2 linked regions of the Homo sapiens genome follow. The protein of the gene in region 2 purifies or fractionates together with the protein of the main gene of each other region. This does not show direct contact. Each region holds a gene or a part of one and is shown on either strand. Other genes may lie near its edges.

Evidence for each region.
Region 1: the proteins of CIMAP1D (region 2) and NMT1 purify together in Homo sapiens (affinity purification with mass spectrometry; 3 studies listed by BioGRID and IntAct, with this or other methods). This does not show direct contact.

Annotation. Positions count from the first base shown.
Region 1 is NC_000017.11:45,067,666-45,071,316, forward strand, and holds part of NMT1 (glycylpeptide N-tetradecanoyltransferase 1), read left to right. Parts: intron 1-3,651.
Region 2 is NC_000019.10:472,878-476,628, reverse strand, and holds the start of CIMAP1D (protein CIMAP1D), read left to right. Parts: upstream 1-1,645; 5' UTR 1,646-1,881; coding exon 1,882-2,008; intron 2,009-3,751.

The DNA of each region.
Region 1 (3,651 bases), on a different chromosome or scaffold from region 2:
TTTAATTTCTCCCTTCAACTTTTGGTTTTTCAAAACTAGATCAAAGCAGAATGGAAAGAGAAACCTCATCACTGATATCAAATAAGTGTTCTAATTTTGTTTCCCAATTAAATGGCAATTAAAAAGAAACTAATCAAGAGCTGCTTCAAAGAGAAGAGACTGGAAAGCAGAAGAAATGGAAAGTAAATGAGAGCCTATTTCAGGGACTCGCTGCTCATGGCACAGCAGTTTTGCTGATTTTTCACATTGTTCAACTAATATGCTCACGCTAAAATTCCCCAGCTTTACTAAGTTGGCAGTTAACCCTTTCCCTATAGAGCCCATAGATTTATGAGCCATACATTTAGTAACTTCAGGAGGATGCTTCTTTAACTCTTTCTCTTCAGCTTTTTATCTGAAATCTCTACCCTTCAGGCCTCTCTTCCAATTCCTCAAAGAAGATGTCCTTGTGATTGTTACATTTAAGGGACAAAAATATGGTGTTCTCTATTGAGAGCGCCAAAAATACTAAACCGGAATTCCTCCATAGGCTCAGTATTTGCCTCAAAAATGTCCCAGCACTTTGAGAGGCTGAAGTGCGCAGATCACTTGAGGTCAGGAGTTCGAGACCAGCCGGGCCAACATGGCAAAACCCCATCTCTACTAAAAATACAAAAATTAGCTGGGCGTGGTGGCACACACCTGTAGTCCCAGCTACATGGGAGGCTGAGACAAGAGAATCACTTGAACCCGGGAGGCAGAGGTTGCAGTGAGCCCAGATGGCGCCATTGCACTTCAGTCTGGGCGACAGAGAGAGCCTCCATCTCAAAAAAATAAACAGAACAACAACTTTCTAGAGCTGCTCTCTTGAGAGACAACTGAGGAGTCACTATGGTTAAGTGTTTAGTAAATGTTACTATTATTACTACGTAGTGGGCATTGTGCTAAGCCCTTTACTTGGATTATATCCTCCATGATTTCACTTATGAAGACTTTAGCGATTTTTGTTTGTTTGTTTCTTTTTTTGAGTCTCACTCTGTCGCCCAGGCTGGAGTACAGTGGCACGATCTTAGCTCACTACAACCTCTGCCTTACAGGTTCAAGCAATTCTTGTGTCTTAACCTCCCAAATAGCTGGGATCACAGGTGTGCACCACCATTCCCGGCTAATTTCTGTATTTTTAATAGAGACACGGTTTTGCCATGTTGGTCAGGCTGGTCTCGAACTCCTGGCCTCAAGCAGTCCACCTGCCTTGGCCTCCCAAAGTGCTGGGATTATTACAGGCGTGAGCCACCATGCCTGGACTTTAGTTTTTTGTTTTTTTGGGTTTTTTTGAGACAGAGTCTCACTCTGTCGCCCAGGCTGGAGTGCAGTGGCGCGATCTCGGCTCACTGCAACCTCTGCCACCCAGGTTCAAGCGACTCTCCTGCGTCAGCCTCCTAAGTAGCTGGGATTACAGGTGCCTGCCACTGTGCCTAACTAACTTTTGTAGTTTTAGTAGAGACGGGGTTTCACCATCTTGGCCAGGCTGGTCTTGAACTCCTGACCTCGTGATCCATCCTCCTTGTCCTCCCAAAGTGCTGGGATTACAGGCGTGAGCCACCATGCCTGGCCAGACTTTATTTTTTATTATTTATTTATTTATTTATTTATTTATTTATTTTTGAGACAGAGTCTCGCTCTGTTGCCCAGGCTGGAGTGCAGTGGCGTGATCTTGGCTCACCACAACCTCCACCTCCCAGGTTCCAGTGATTCTCCTGCCTCAGCCTCCTGGATAGCTGGGACTACAGGCACATGCCACCACGCCCAGCTGATTTTTGTATTTTTAGTAGAGATGGGGTTTCACCATCTTGGCCAGGCTGGTCTTGGAACTCCTAATCTCGTGATCTGCCCACCTCAGCCTCCCAAAGTGCTGGGATTACAGGCATGAGCCACCACTGCGCCCAGCTAGACTTTAGTTTTTATAGTGAGGCTTGAGATTTGCATCTCCACTGGTCTCTTTGACATCTCAGAGGATCCATTCTGAACTTGCTAGGTTTCTTTCCCCTGCTGAATTGAGTTCTGCATCTTGAGTCTGCAGCAGTGTGAATCCTATCTTTGGCTCCATTTAACAGCCTATGGACGTTCCCAAACTTGGGACCCAGTTTGTCTCTTCATGATAGACAAATATTATTTTCAGAAGTCATTCTAATCGCACCACTGCACTCCAGCCTGGCAACAGTGAGACTCCATCTCAAAAAAAAAAAAAAAAGTCATTCTAGTAGGTGAGATTTCTGCCAGCATTGAGCCACTGCTCAACATATTCTTGATAATGGTCTCTGAACAGCATTTGATTTTACCTTGGAGTTGCAAAGTCAAAGTCTAACTCGCCAAACAAACTCAGTGTGGAATATACACATTTGTCTCATTCCGGTTTTAAGGAGTTTAGTATACCAGAGCTTTTGTGACCTCTAAAAAGCAGTTATCGTCCATGACAAGAATTGGCTCGTTCACCCTCAGTACTCTGGCTTACTATCCCAGGGAGGGCCGAGGGTGGCAGCAAAAGTGGTCTTTTGTAATCCCTTTTTATAACCTGCTGTTCTCTTCACAGACCTCCCAGGGTACCTTTTTTTGTGTGTGTGTGTGTGAGATGGAGTCTCACTCTCACCCAGGCTGGAGTGCAGTGGCGTAATCTCGGCTCACTGCAACCTCTGCCTCCTGGGTTCAAACTATTCTCTTGCCTCAGCCTCTCAAGTAGCTGGGATTACAGGCACCCGCCACCATGCCTAGCTAATTTTTATTTTTTATTTTTGAGACAGAGTCTCGCTCTGTCACCCAGGCTGGAGTACAGTGGCGCGGTCTTGGCTCACTGCAAGCTGCGTCTCCCGGGCTCACGCCATTCTCCTGCCTCAGCCTCCTGGGTAGCTGGGACTGTAGTCGCCCGTCACCACGCCCGGCTAATTTTTTGTATTTTTAGTAGAGACGGGGTTTCACCGTATTAGCCAGGATGGTCTCGATCTCCTGACCTCATGATCCGCCCACCTCGGCCTCCCTAAGAGCTGGAATTACAGGCGTGAGCCACCGCGCCTGGCCAATTTTTGTAATTTTTAGTAGAGAAGGGTTTTGCTATGTTGGCCAGGCTTGTCTCGAGCTCCAGACCTTAGGTGATCTGCCCGCCTTGGCCTCCCAAAGTGCTGGGATTACAGGCATGAGCCACTGTGCCCAGCCCCAGGGTACCTTGATGGCAGTACTAAAGTGTTTTTATTTTTCCCATCATTTGGGATTCACAAGCAGTTTTTGATATAACTAATTGGTGGGAATGTGCGGAGTTGGGGGTATTGCACTGAGTGATCCTTAGCCGCAGAAGTACAGAGACTAGACAGCTGATACTGATTCATGCCATGTCATTTCCTTCTGGGCATCTTTGCCATTTCATTCACCTCTCTTTGGTCTTTCTGAGTACTAATAGGATTATTAGTGAACTTACCATACTTCAAGAGTTAATTGATTTGCAAAAGGATTTCCTGATGTCTAAAAGTAGAATCAAAAGGATATTAGAGGTTAGAGTTTATTTTAATAAGTTTCTCTGGAAAATTTGAATTTCTGCCCAAAAAATTCATTTTTTATTTGAGACAAGGTTTCACTCTGTCACCCAGATCGTAGTGCCATGGTGCAGTCCTCCTACTTCAGCCT
Region 2 (3,751 bases):
ATGATCCTTTATGTAGACTATACCATTTTGATTAAAAAATTTTAAAACATGCAATACATTAAAATTACATTGCAGGGTGAAATGTATAATTGTATGGTATGTGAATTATATCAATAAAGCTGTTAAAGATGACACTGCAGGCCAGGCACGGTGGCTTACGCTTGTAATCCCAGCACTTTGGGAGGCCGAGGTGTGTGGATCACCTGAGGTCAGGAGTTTGAAACCAGCCTGGCCAACATGGAGAAACCCCATCTCTACTAAAAATACAAAAAAATTGGCTGGGCGCGGTGGCTCACACCTGTAATCCTGGCACTTTGGGAGGCTGAGGCGGTTGGATCACAAGGTCAAGAGATTGAGGCCATCCTGGCCAACGTGGTGAAACCCCGTCTCTACTAAAAATACAAAAAAATTAGCTGGACATGGTGGAGTGTGCCTGTAATTAGCTACTAAAAATACAAAAAAATTAGCTAGACGTGGTGGTGCATGCCTGTAATCCCAGCTACTCGAGAGGCTGAGGCAGGAGAATTTCTTGAACCCTGGAGGCGGAGGTTCCAGTGAGCCGAGATCGCGCCACTGCATTCCAGCCTGGGCGGGGGAGCAAGACTCTGTCTCAAAAAAAAAAAAAAAAAAAAAAAAAAAAAATTAGCCAGGCGTGGTGAAACCCCATCTCTACTAAAAAATATAAAAATTAGTCAGGCGTGGTGGCGGGTGCCTGTAATCTCAGCTACTCAGGAGGCTGAGGCAGGATAATCGCATAAACCCGGGAGGCAGAGGTTGCAGTGAGCCGAGATCGCACCAGCGCACTCCAGGCTGGGTGACAGAGTGAGACTCTGTCTCAAAAAAAAAAAAAAATTACACTGCAAAAGGCTCCAAAAAATACAGAAACAAACAAGGAAGAGACAGGAACGTGCATCTCATCTGGCAGTTTTCTGAGCCTCTTCTTGGAGCCTCACGCAGTGGTCGCCTTGAATGTATCAAAATCCATTGTGGTTTAAATCTCGGAGGCATCTGGGAGGCAGTGAGGACGGCTCTCACCTCCCCGCTGTCCTCGCCGCTGCCCCAGGGCCTCTGCACGGCTGCCTCCTCACCTGCTTTGGGACTGTTCAGTTTTACCTTCTCCGTGGGGCTCACCCACACCCACACTGCTACCCTGGGCCCCAAACCTGTCTGCGTTTTCCCTCACGTTCAGTGCCTCCTCATACACCAGACTGTGTTCACTTATCACATTTACTGACGACTTTCTCTCTCCCATCCTGAGAACATCTCCTTCTTTTCCGTCTGTTCGTGTCCAGTTCTCACCACCCCCAACAGAGGCTGGTACACAGTAGGTGCCCAGTACATGCTTTGGCAGGAATGAGTGACAGGATGAGGCAGTGAATGCTTCTTGGCTCAGAGCTGAAACTCCCAGAGTTGTGTACTTGCTGTATGACCTTGGGCTGTGCCTCAGTTTCCCCAGGTGTAGAAACGGGGCCACGCCACCCACGACCCCGCCAGGCCCTCCTGCTGCAAGGCTGTGGGTGTCATGTTTGCAGGTCTAGTTCCCTGGGGCCGGCCCTGGCCCCAGCTGCCCAGCTCTGCCGGCTCCCGGGAGACGCACTCTGCTGACACCGGACTCTTTCCTGGACCATCCAGCCGCCTGGCCGACACTCGATCCCGGCCCCACTTCCAGGCCAGTGTCCGGCCGACCAGCCTGCCTTGGGCCAGGGCCCCACGACTCCCTGCTGCGGGACAAGAGGCCGTCTGTGCGGCTGTGGTCGTGGGAGGGTGTGGTGAGGCCGTGAAGGTGGGGACGGTGCCTGGGCCTGTGGCCGCCAGAGCTGCTGCGGCTCAGAAGGTAGCACCAGGCCCCGTGGGTGCTGTGGGGGCCATCGCCTGCCCACCATGGGGACCCTCAGCTGCGACTCCACCCCACGGCTGGCCACAGCCCCCCTTGGCCGGCGAGTGACGGAGGGCCAGATTCCGGAGACCGGCCTGAGGAAGTCCTGTGGGACGGCCACCCTGGAGAACGGTGCGTGCCAGCCGTGGGGGATGGGTGGGACCTTTTCCTGCTCCACTCCCCATACTTCTGGGGCTTCTGGAATGTTCTGGGAGCCCAGCAGGAGGCAGGAGTTTCAGGCAAGTCCTTGCCCTTCCCCAGACCTCAGTTTTCCTTCCGGCAGGATGGGTGTGGACACGGGGTTGCCGTGAGCCCCGAGTATGTGTCTGTCCAACGGAAGCTGCGTGCTTTGCCAGCCGGGTCCCCTTCCAGGGGCTGTGGGTACAGCAGTGGGCAAAGCCACAGCGATCATGCGGGAGACGCGGGGAGGAGGGAATATTTCCAGCGTGGCCCTCAGGGACGGGCGCCCTAGACAACGTGGGGCAGGGCGAGGGGCGCGTGTGCGGAGGCGGCTCTGCTGGGAGCCACATCAGCTGCTGGCCTCGGTGAGGGCCCAGGACGGGCCGCAGTTTCCTCACCCACAATTAGCGGCTGGAGTCAGGCCCCAAGCCAGGTCCTCGGGCTGGTTCTGTGGTCTCTCCTGATCCCTGTGGCATCGAGATTCTGCAGAAGCCACAACACATGGCGTCTGTGACCGTGTATCTCTGGGAGGCTCAGGCCTCAGTCTCCCCATCTGTGATCGTGTATCTCTGCCTGGGCCTCAGTTTCCCCATCTGTGACCGTGTATCTCTGCCTGGGCCTCAGTTTCCCCATCTGTGACCGTGTATCTCTGCCTGGGCCTCAGTTTCCCCATCTGTGACCGTGTATCTCTGCCTGGGCCTCAGTCTCCCCATCTGTGACCGTGTATCTCTGCCTGGCCCTCAGTTTCCCCATCTGTGACCGTGTATCTCTGGGAGGCTCAGGCCTCAGTCTCCCCATCTGTGATCGTGTATCTCTGCCTGGGCCTCAGTCTCCCCATCTGTGATCGTGTATCTCTGCCTGGGCCTCAGTTTCCCCATCTGTGACCATGTATCTCTGCCTGGGCCTCAGTCTCCCCATCTGTGACCGTGTATCTCTGGGAGGCTCAGGCCTCAGTCTCCCCATCTGTGACTGTGTATCTCTGCCTGGGCCTCAGTTTCCCGATCTGTGACCGTGTATCTCTGCCTGGGCCTCAGTCTCCCCATCTGTGACCGTGTTTCTCTGCCTGGCCCTCAGTTTCCCCATCTGTGACCGTGTATCTCTGGGAGGCTCAGGCCTCAGTCTCCCCATCTGTGATCGTGTATCTCTGCCTGGGCCTCAGTTTCCCCACCTGTGACCGTGTATCTCTGCCTGGGCCTCAGTTTCCCCATCTGTGACCATGTATCTCTGCCTGGGCCTCAGTCTCCCCATCTGTGACCATGTATCTCTGCCTAGGCCTCAGTTTCCCCATCTGTGACCGTGTATCTCTGGGAGGCTCAGGCCTCAGTCTCCCCATCTGTGACCATGTATCTCTGCCTAGGCCTCAGTCTCCCCATCTGTGACCGTGTATCTCTGGGAGGCTCAGGCCTCAGTCTCCCCATCTGTGACCGTGTATCTCTGGGAGGCTCAGGCCTCAGTTTCCCGATCTGTGACCGTGTATCTCTGCCTGGGCCTCAGTCTCCCCATCTGTGACCGTGTATCTCTGCCTGGGCCTCAGTTTCCCCATCTGTGACCATGTATCTCTGCCTGGGCCTCAGTTTCCCCATCTGTGACCATGTATCTCTGCCTGGGCCTCAGTCTCCCCATCTGTGACCATGTATCTCTGCCTAGGCCTCAGTTTCCCCATCTGTGACCGTGTATCTCTGCCTGGGCCTCAGT